Regions from separate parts of the Homo sapiens genome. Here regions 1 and 2 are each reported to be linked to region 3. Evidence: microRNA targets listed by miRTarBase, many of them from high-throughput screens and not tested one by one. Region 3 holds a microRNA gene; each other region holds the end of a gene's coding sequence. Distances are between the middles of the regions.

Region 1 (3,159 bases), not on the chromosome of region 3:
CTTATCTTAATTACCGAGTATATCTCTGTACAGCTCTCTGTGTGGGCTCCCATATTCAGAGGTGGGAGCTCTAGTCTGACTGTGGAAATACACTTCCTTCATAGCCCCTAGGGTGAGGGGAGACATGGGCCCTAATCTCCTGGGGCTCCATAGTCCGAGGGGGAGACAAAGGCCCTACTTTCAGAGGTTCCCCAGTCCAAGAGGGGAGTCAGAAGCCCATCTGCAGGGACTCATTTGCAGGTGCCATCTCAGGGGTGGTTTACCCCAGACAGGCTTCTGAGCCTGTTGGAGAGTCTTAGAGGATGTTATGTCTCCAGGCCTACTCACTGCAGCACAGCAAGGAGGACCGGCTGGCGTATCTGAACCATCTCCCAGGAGGGGAGCTGATGATCCAGCTGTTCTTCGTGCTGTATGGCATCCTGGCCCTGGCCTTTCTGTCAGGCTACTACGTGACCCTCGCTGCCCAGATCCTGGCTGTACTGCTGCCCCCTGTCATGCTGCTCATTGATGGCAATGTTGCTTACTGGCACAACACGCGGCGTGTTGAGTTCTGGAACCAGATGAAGCTCCTTGGAGAGAGTGTGGGCATCTTCGGAACTGCTGTCATCCTGGCCACTGATGGCTGAGTTTTATGGCAAGAGGCTGAGATGGGCACAGGGAGCCACTGAGGGTCACCCTGCCTTCCTCCTTGCTGGCCCAGCTGCTGTTTATTTATGCTTTTTGGTCTGTTTGTTTGATCTTTTGCTTTTTTAAAATTGTTTTTTGCAGTTAAGAGGCAGCTCATTTGTCCAAATTTCTGGGCTCAGCGCTTGGGAGGGCAGGAGCCCTGGCACTAATGCTGTACAGGTTTTTTTCCTGTTAGGAGAGCTGAGGCCAGCTGCCCACTGAGTCTCCTGTCCCTGAGAAGGGAGTATGGCAGGGCTGGGATGCGGCTACTGAGAGTGGGAGAGTGGGAGACAGAGGAAGGAAGATGGAGATTGGAAGTGAGCAAATGTGAAAAATTCCTCTTTGAACCTGGCAGATGCAGCTAGGCTCTGCAGTGCTGTTTGGAGACTGTGAGAGGGAGTGCGTGTGTTGACACATGTGGATCAGGCCCAGGAAGGGCACAGGGGCTGAGCACTACAGAAGTCACATGGGTTCTCAGGGTATGCCAGGGGCAGAAACAGTACCGGCTCTCTGTCACTCACCTTGAGAGTAGAGCAGACCCTGTTCTGCTCTGGGCTGTGAAGGGGTGGAGCAGGCAGTGGCCAGCTTTGCCCTTCCTGCTGTCTCTGTTTCTAGCTCCATGGTTGGCCTGGTGGGGGTGGAGTTCCCTCCCAAACACCAGACCACACAGTCCTCCAAAAATAAACATTTTATATAGACATTTGGTTTTGCTTTTCTGTTCTCCCCAACAGGGAACTCTGCCATTGGCTGGGATTGATCTTGGGTTTCTTGAAACACTAGATCTGGTCAAGCCCCACCTTGGGCCTCCCGTGATCTTTCCCCTGTTCCAAGATTTCCCACAGTTCTTTGGCTCTCTCTCTTTCTTTTTTTTTTTAATTTTTCACTTCTTTATTTTTTAGAGACAAGGTCTCACTTTGTTGTCCAGGCTGGTTTCAGACTCCTTGGCTCAAGTGATTCTCCAGCCTCAGCCTCAGCCTCCCAAAGTGCTGGGACTACAGGCATAAGCCACTGTGCCCAGTGGCTCTCTTTTTCAAGAATCTCAAAATCCTCATTGTACTATATGCTTTCAATCCCTCACCTCAGTCCCTCTTGTTGTAGGTTGTCTTTTTCTCCCCATTTGGAGCTGGTTCTTATGAAGACATCTTTGGTGAGAGCAGCTAGAGGGAGAGAACTGTGAAGTGTCCACTGTGAAGTGGAATATTTTACACTTTATACATGAAGGAAATGGAGGCTCAGAGAGGATAAGCAGTTTCGGTCAAGCCACAGAGCAAATCCAGCCCACAGAGCTGGATTCCAGGTCAGGTCTGTCTAATGGTGAAGTCCAGATATGTACTCACTGTGACCCATCTCCTGAGGGGAGACAGAGGCTGCTCTATTCCAGCCCCTACTGTGCCATGATGGTCTCCCTGTTGACCTTCTCCCTTTTTTTTTGAGACGGAGTCTTGCTCTGTCACCTAGGCTGGAGTGCTGTGGCGTGATCTCTGCTCACTGCAAGCTCCGCTTCCCGGGTTCATGCCATTCTCCTGCCTCAGCCTCCCGAGTAGCTGGGACTACGGTTTTGTTTGTTTGTTTGTTTTTTGTTTTTTTTGAGACAGAGTCTCACTGTCACCCAGGCTGGAGTGCTGTGGTGTGATCTCGGCTCACTGCAACCTCTGCCTCCCGGGTTCAAGTGATTCTCCTGCCTCAGCCTCCTGAGTAGCTGGGATTACAGGTGCCCGCCACCATGCCTGGCTAATTTTTTTTTTTTTTGAGACGGAGTCTCGCTCTGTCGCCCAGGCTGGAGTGCAGTGGTGCGGTCTTGGCTCACTGCAAGCTCCGCCTCCCAGGTTCACGCCATTCTCCTGCCTCAGCCTCCTGAGTAGCTGGGACTACAGGCGCCCGCCACCACGCCCAGCTAATTTTTTGTATTTTTAGTAGAGATGGGGTTTCACTGTGTTAGCCAAGATGGTCTCGATCTCCTCACCTCGTGATCCACCCGCCTCGGCCTCCTAAAGTGCTGGGATTACAGGCGTGAGTCATCGCATCCGGCGACCTTCTCCCTTCTTGTCTATGTGTCTGCCAGAAAGTCACCCCAGCAGCAGCCGGTATGGTGCCTGCTACATTATGGAGCTTCAAAAAATGTCAAATGAAACCCCTGGGCTTTGGATTTCTGCCCATCGAGTCCTGTAGAGACTGGACACAACCACTAGTAGGGCCTAGGGGAAAACGTCCAAGTTTGAGCTTTTAAGCCAAAGCCATCTTTTAACTTCTCTGGGCTCTTGCAGGTAAACGGTCCGCCACTGATGCCTGGGTCTGGCTGTGAGCCCAGCCTAGAAAGGGAGCTGTGGGTGGAGGCACTCACAGGCAAGGGGAGCTGGGGCTGCTGTGGCCTGGTCTGTGGAAGGGAGGATGCTTCCTAATCTCTGGGAGGGAGATGGTGGCAGCATTCATCATAGAAGTCTTCTACTCCCTCCAGGAGTCCCCTGATTCCCCAGCCCTCAAGATCTTGCTCCC
Region 2 (3,159 bases), 24 Mb from region 3:
CTAGCCAGTATCTCCCTCCTCACCCATTCCCCAACGAAACGGATTTGGTGGGCCCGCCTGCCAGCTGTGAATTTAGTACTTTTGCTGTGAGCATGAACCAGGGCACAGAGCCCACAGGCCCAGCAGACAGCGTGTCTCTGTCCTTGCACAATTCCAGAGGCACCTCATCCTCGGATGTGTCTGCCAACTGCGGCTTTGACGATTCCGAAGTAGCCATGAGTGACTACGAGAGCGTGGGAGAGCTCAGCCTCGCCAGCCTTCACATTCCCTTTGTGGAGACTCAGCATCAGACTCAAGTGTAGACATCACATCTTGGGTACTTCACCCTGTTTGTTACAGAAAAGTGGAAGCAGATTGGCTGGGCTTCTGTCCCAGTGGAGCATTGTCTGTGGAATGAGAAGGGAATACTGTATTTTTCCACTAGAAACTTCTTCACAAGTCATACTGTCCCAACAAGCAAGCTTGATTCCAGTTGGGTGAAAATGAAAGGCTCAGAAATTGTTTTTGAGAGGTGACTGGTAATCCTTGATGTAGGTACCTATGTTCACAGCTAAAAATGCAAAGAGGGAAAAATTATTTCACCCACTAAGTTATACAGCCAGTCTTGTATGGCTTTGTGCAGTATTGTGCCCTGGAAAGTGTTACAGCATCAGTCCTTGCAGTATTAAAAACTGGCAACAATCAAAGAGGCATTGTTGCATGTAATTTTGAGCCAATGAAATGAAAATAGTAGTAATGATTGTTGGAAAAGTTAGTCTCTTAGGCGAAAGAGAAGAGAAACAAATATTATTAAACAAACCAGAAAATGGGCTGAAGCCTTTTAAATCAACTCTATTTTTTTGATAAGCTGCCCAATTTTCAGCTATAAAATTAGGCTTGAATAACATGTTTAGTATGCTCAGTTATTTCTGTTTGTTTGTGTTAAGCATCCAATCTAATATAGTTGGGTTTTATGATCTTCAAGAAAGGTATCAATGAAGAGCAACATGAGGCTTTTTGGGTTCCATTTGGTGGGTGGGGGAGGAAGTTAAAGTTGTTTGAACATTAGAAAGAATGTGATTATCTGGTTGGTTTTGTGTTTTCTGGTAAATATTCCAGTTGGTAAATCTAACATTGCTACAGAAGTTGGCTTTGTTCATATAGCTTCTCTACAATTAGATATTTTTAGAAGTTTAAGCAAAACTCACAAATTCAGGGGGGAAAAAAGAAAAAACGATACCTTCAAAGTTTGCGGCCTAGATAATCACAATTCTTCATAATGCAGAGGAAAGGTGTCTGTTATTCTAAATCGGTAGCATCACCATTATAAATACAATTATGTTAAGAAAAGAGGAAAGTAGACTAGTTATTGTGTATAAATTATAATAGTGTGTGTGTGTCTGGGCCTATGTACAAATATGTGCTTGCACTCAGTAAGGCTGCTCTTGAGGAAAGCTAATGTGAAGGTTTTGGGAAATGGACCATGTTGAAAATTCTGCCGGCGAGCATGGCATACCTTTCAATTTCTCTGATCTCTATGGTGTTAGAGAAACATCAAATGCCATATTTTACTCTGGTTCAGTTAACTTTATTTTGGTACTGCCAATAAAGCAAAATTGTGCTTTTTTTTTTTTTTCTCAAGACAGAGTCTTGCTCTGTCACCCAGGCTAGAGTGCAATGGCATGATCTCAGCTCACTGCAATCTCCACCTCCTGGGTTCAAGCGATTCTCCTGCCTCAGCCTCCCAGGTTGCTGGGGTTACAGGTGTGTGCCACCACGCCTGGCTAATTTTTTGTATTTTTAGTAGAGATGGGGTTTCACCATGTTGGCCAGGCTGGTCTCAAACTCCTGACCTCGTAATCCACCTGCCGTGGCCTCCCAAAGTGCTGGGATTACAGGCATGAGCCACCGTGCCCAGCCCAAAACTGTGCTTTTTAAAAACAGTATTTTGTTATAATTTTCCAGAACTTACCTCTGTTTTAAAAGTGTGTAATGTTTGATTACACCCTGGGATTCCCTTCTCATCTGTGGGCTTTGGCCATGATTTCCAAAATTAACAGGAGAATCATTCCACTGGAAATATAACAATCCAGTCCTCAAAACTGAAAGTTGACAGGTTGAGGGACTTTCCTTTTTTGCTTCAATCAGATTACGGCCGCCTGTGCAGTGGCCATGGTAAATATATGCATATTTGCACTATCTGCTTAATGAGCAAATCTGTGTCCACAGTTTCTGATGACATATGGCATTGGTGTGTAAATTGTACTGTCCCTAGTCTGTGCATTATTCACTCAGACATATTTTTAGTTATTTCAATTGCGTTTAATCCACTTCTTTTTTATGAGTCAGTGTTTCTGAATGTTTATGCAAAAAAAAAAATCCTTTTTCATTCCCAAACTTTCTAAGTAAGTGGATACACTACACTTCACAAGTTTTCCAGCCTTTCTCTTCCTGTCTCTTGGTCAGACCTACTCATGGAGGTATTATCCACACTGTGATCTTGAAATAAATGAATTTCACTAAGGCTGCTTTCGAGAACAAAGTCTTTGGTATTTTTCTTATGTAAGAAGCACATTTGCAAGAATCATGGAAAAAAATGACAAACTAATGGCCTAGAATAGAGTGACTGCTACACTTTAAGTAATGCAATGACATAAAAACCATCAAAGTAAAACCAACATGTCATTTCCTGCCCCCAGGAAATATTAGAATGAGATTAATGCTGATGAGTCCCTACTGCTTACACAGCATCTCTTTGAGGGAGAATGCCTGACTGACACAGTAATGAAAGAATAAATAGATCCTAATGCAGTCATGAAGCCACTGAAGAAAATTGTGCCCACCCTTTGCTGTGACCTATATAAAATATCTCTTTCTTTGGGATATCATCCCCTGATTTTCTGCAGAATAGCTCTGCAGCTAAATATATACCAGGCAAGCATGTATTGTGTTTTGATTTATTATCTTTAAACACATGATATCTCTTCACTTTTTGGAAAGTTAGATTTCTCTGTAGATTATGAAATGCTTTGCAGTCAGGCCAAGATGCTACTAGGTGGGGATGATCACTAATTCAAAAAAGCTGGAAGAATCCTATTTGCTAGTCCAAACTCCTTATTTTATCAAAGAGGAAACATACCCAGAGTGGGAAAGAGACTTGCCCAAGCCCACAGAGGAAGT
Region 3 (3,159 bases):
CCAGGCCCCGCCCTCTCGCCACCCTGCAGAGGCTTTTCTGCTCGGTGTTGGCTGTGGGGTGCACTCCCGTCATGCCCTGTTGCCCTCCCTGCGCCTCCGTCCAGGAACCCGCGCGTTTCCTTGTCTCCTCCCTGTGGGGCTCCTGGGCTCCTCCCAACCCGCCTCCCGTGTCTCTCCCCAGGAGGCCGGAGATGGTGGGCCTGCTGTCGCTGTGGGACATGACCCGCATGCTGAACATGCTCATCGTGTTCCGCTTCCTGCGTATCATCCCCAGCATGAAGGTGTGTGCCGGCCCCACCCCCACTCGCCCCACCCTCCTGGGTCATGCTGCTGCGTTGCTCCAGGGTGGGTGAGCCTGGGGCAGGAAGGGCCCGAGGACTGTGCCCGTCACCCTGGGCTCCCTGGCTGCACCCTCAGCTCTCTGCCGTGCTCTTGTGATGCTGGGGAAGGGTCATTAGAAGCAGGAGAGCCCAGCCCTGCATTTCTGGGTTGGGAGAGGAAGGCGGGCAAGGGTGTGGCGGGTGCAATGCTTTGGCCAGTGGCAGGAGCTCCTTGGGGCTGGAGCCCTGGACACCAGTGCTCCCCCAGGTCTCTGAGGTTCCCAGAAAGGCCTTTGCCATGGCTCCCAGGGTGCTATTAATGAGGGGCAGTGGTATCCCTGGCCAGGGAGCTTGTTTCCAGGATCCTCTAATGCGGGCGCAGGTGGCTCATGACCATCTCTGAGGGCTGGTTTCTCTTAATGCACCGGTTAGGAGCAATGGGCACCTTAAAGGGGCAGGCAGGCAGAGGTCGGGGGTCTGGGCCTTGCTGCTCCTGGCATCATGTCCTAAGACCCATGTTCTGAGTGTCCAGGTCCCTCCTCTGTCCCCGTTCATCCTTCCTCTGAGCTGTGCACCTGTCCCACCTGACAGTATGTCCCACTTGAAGGCAGCTCAGGGGTCCTGAGCCTTCCTACGGGGCTGCTGTGCTGGGACCTTCATACGCACACACACGCGCACACGTGTTCACACATAATTACAGCCATACAAGCACAATCATACATATATACAATACAGCCAAGCACACGTGATCTCACACACAACCACACATGTGACCATGCACATGCATATACACACACAATCACAGGCACACATGATCATACACAGTCACACATATACAATCATGTTTGGATACAATACACATCATCATGCACATACACACGTACATTAATACGCACGCCCGCATCACCGTATGCACAGATAATCACATGCAAATATCCATGTGAACTCATGTCCGTGTAAGACGCATGATCGTGTGTGCACACATCGCATGCAGATATCCATGTGAACTCGTGCCCGGGTAAGACGCATGATCGTGTGTGCACACATCGCATGCAGATATCCATGTGAACTCGTGCCCGGGTAAGACGCATGATCGTGTGTGCACACATCGCGTGCAGATATCCATGTGAACTCGTGCCCGTGTAAGACGCATGATCGTGTGTGCACACATCGCGTGCAGATATCCATGTGAACTCGTGCCCGTGTAAGACGCATGATCGTGTGTGCACACATCGCGTGCAGATATCCATGTGAACTCGTGCCCGTGTAAGACGCATGATCGTGTGTGCACACATCACGTGCAGATATCCATGTGAACTCGTGCCCGGATAAGACGCATGATCGTGTGTGCACACATCGCGTGCAGATATCCACGTGAACTCGTGCCCGTGTAAGATGCATGATCGTGTGTGCACACATCGCATGCAGATATCCTTGTGAACTCGTGCCCGTGTAAGACGCATGATCGTGTGTGCACACATCGCATGCAGATATCCTTGTGAACTCGTGCCCGTGTAAGACACATGATCGTGTGTGCACACATCGCATGCAGATATCCATGTGAACTTGTGCCCGTGTAAGATGCATGATCGTGTGTGCACACATCCACAGTAAGGCCTCAGTGCTATCCACAGGTTCTTGGAAACTGTGACTTTAAGGGAAATGGCGCACAGCAGACCCTGCAATCATGCCGTTTTGCTTGAAGTCGCAGTTTCCCAGGACCTCTCACGTGAGTATATACATGCTCACGATGACACGCAACGTGTGCACACGTACATGCTGACTGGTCTCCACTGTGGCGTTCAGCTGTGTTGTCTAGTTTGGATTCCTCAGGTGGGTTGATGGGGCTGATGTGAAGGCCTTTCTCCCGGCTAGGCTGTGATGAGGAGGAGCGGCTCTTTGGAGCCGGGGCCTCCCTGCTGGTTCTCAGAGGCCCCTTCTCAGACTCAGTTCCTGCAGGTGCTCCTGCCACCTCTAGCTCTGCATTTCTTTGGCGTCTCCAGGCCACAGAGTAGCTGACCCACCTGCAGTGGGTTGGGAGGCAGAGAAGGGCCTCCCACAGGAATTTGAAGTCCGTGCTTGAATGAGGCTGGGGTGGAGGTGTTGGGATGCGGGAGTGGGTGAGTGAGTGCGTGCGGGTGGCGATGCAAGCGTGTGCGAATGCGTGTGGGTAGATGTAGGTGTTGGGGTGCGAGGGTGTGTATGGGTGGACGTGGGGGCCTGACAGGCTGTGTGGGTGTGTAGAGGCGTGTGGGGGTGGCTGTGGGTCCAGGTGTGTGTGTGTGGGTTGGTGGTCATTGGCCTGCCCCATCTTGCCTTTCTGTCAGGGTCAGCGTGGTGGGCCGGGATGGTGTCCCCTCAGTGGGGCCAGGAGGAGTAAGGGCTGTGCTCTCTTCCTGTCCTCAGCTGATGGCCGTGGTGGCCAGTACCGTCCTGGGCCTGGTGCAGAACATGCGTGCGTTTGGCGGGATCCTGGTGGTGAGTCCCAGGCTGCTGCTGGTGGCGGGTTATGCACTGGAGTGGGAGGCTGGGAGGCTGGCGGAAGGCAGTGCCGGGCCGGCTCACTGCTCTGTCGGTAGGAAGGTTCTTGGGTTCGGACGGCAGCAGGTTCCTGAGGCCAGGGAAGTACAGGGTCGGGGTAAGAAGCCAGAGGCATCCCCTTCTTTGTACAGCAGGGAGCTCGGGTGGTGTGGCTGGTGGCCCTGCCTGAGCATCCTTCCCTCCCATGGCAGAGACTGTTTGGTAATTTTTGAGTCTCTCGTGTTTTCTGGGTTGTGGATCTCGTTGAGAAAGTAATGACAGAAATTTAAGAGGCGCAGGGCTTTGCTCCAGGGACCCC

What was found. Region 3 holds the annotated microRNA hsa-miR-3164 (UGUGACUUUAAGGGAAAUGGCG, at 1,967-1,988, shown strand). A microRNA usually pairs through its seed, bases 2 to 8, with sites in the 3' UTR of a target mRNA and lowers its output. Matches are read on the target gene's strand: a 7mer-m8 pairs with bases 2 to 8, a 7mer-A1 pairs with bases 2 to 7 and ends in A, and an 8mer does both.
Region 1: miRTarBase lists TMEM101 as a target of hsa-miR-3164. Seed matches in the 3' UTR shown: 8mer at 1,126-1,133.
Region 2: miRTarBase lists FAT3 as a target of hsa-miR-3164. The part of its 3' UTR that is shown has no 7-base or 8-base seed match.

Annotation. Positions count from the first base shown.
Region 1 is chr17:44,009,395-44,012,553 of GRCh38, reverse strand. TMEM101 (transmembrane protein 101) reads left to right here. Exons shown (of 4, transcript NM_032376.4): 4 at 318-1,366. The coding sequence ends at 626. Among named protein-coding and RNA genes, the nearest start is that of TMEM101, 4.0 kb to the left of the region's middle. RefSeq lists a silencer at 999-1,293.
Region 2 is chr11:92,890,812-92,893,970 of GRCh38, forward strand. FAT3 (FAT atypical cadherin 3) reads left to right here. Exons shown (of 28, transcript NM_001367949.2): 28 at 1-3,159. The coding sequence ends at 302. Among named protein-coding and RNA genes, the nearest start is that of LINC02746, 23 kb to the right of the region's middle.
Region 3 is chr11:69,081,219-69,084,377 of GRCh38, forward strand. It overlaps MIR3164 (microRNA 3164), which reads left to right and starts at 1,958; the gene lies at 1,958-2,040. TPCN2 (two pore segment channel 2) reads left to right here. Exons shown (of 25, transcript NM_139075.4): 18 at 182-281; 19 at 2,727-2,798.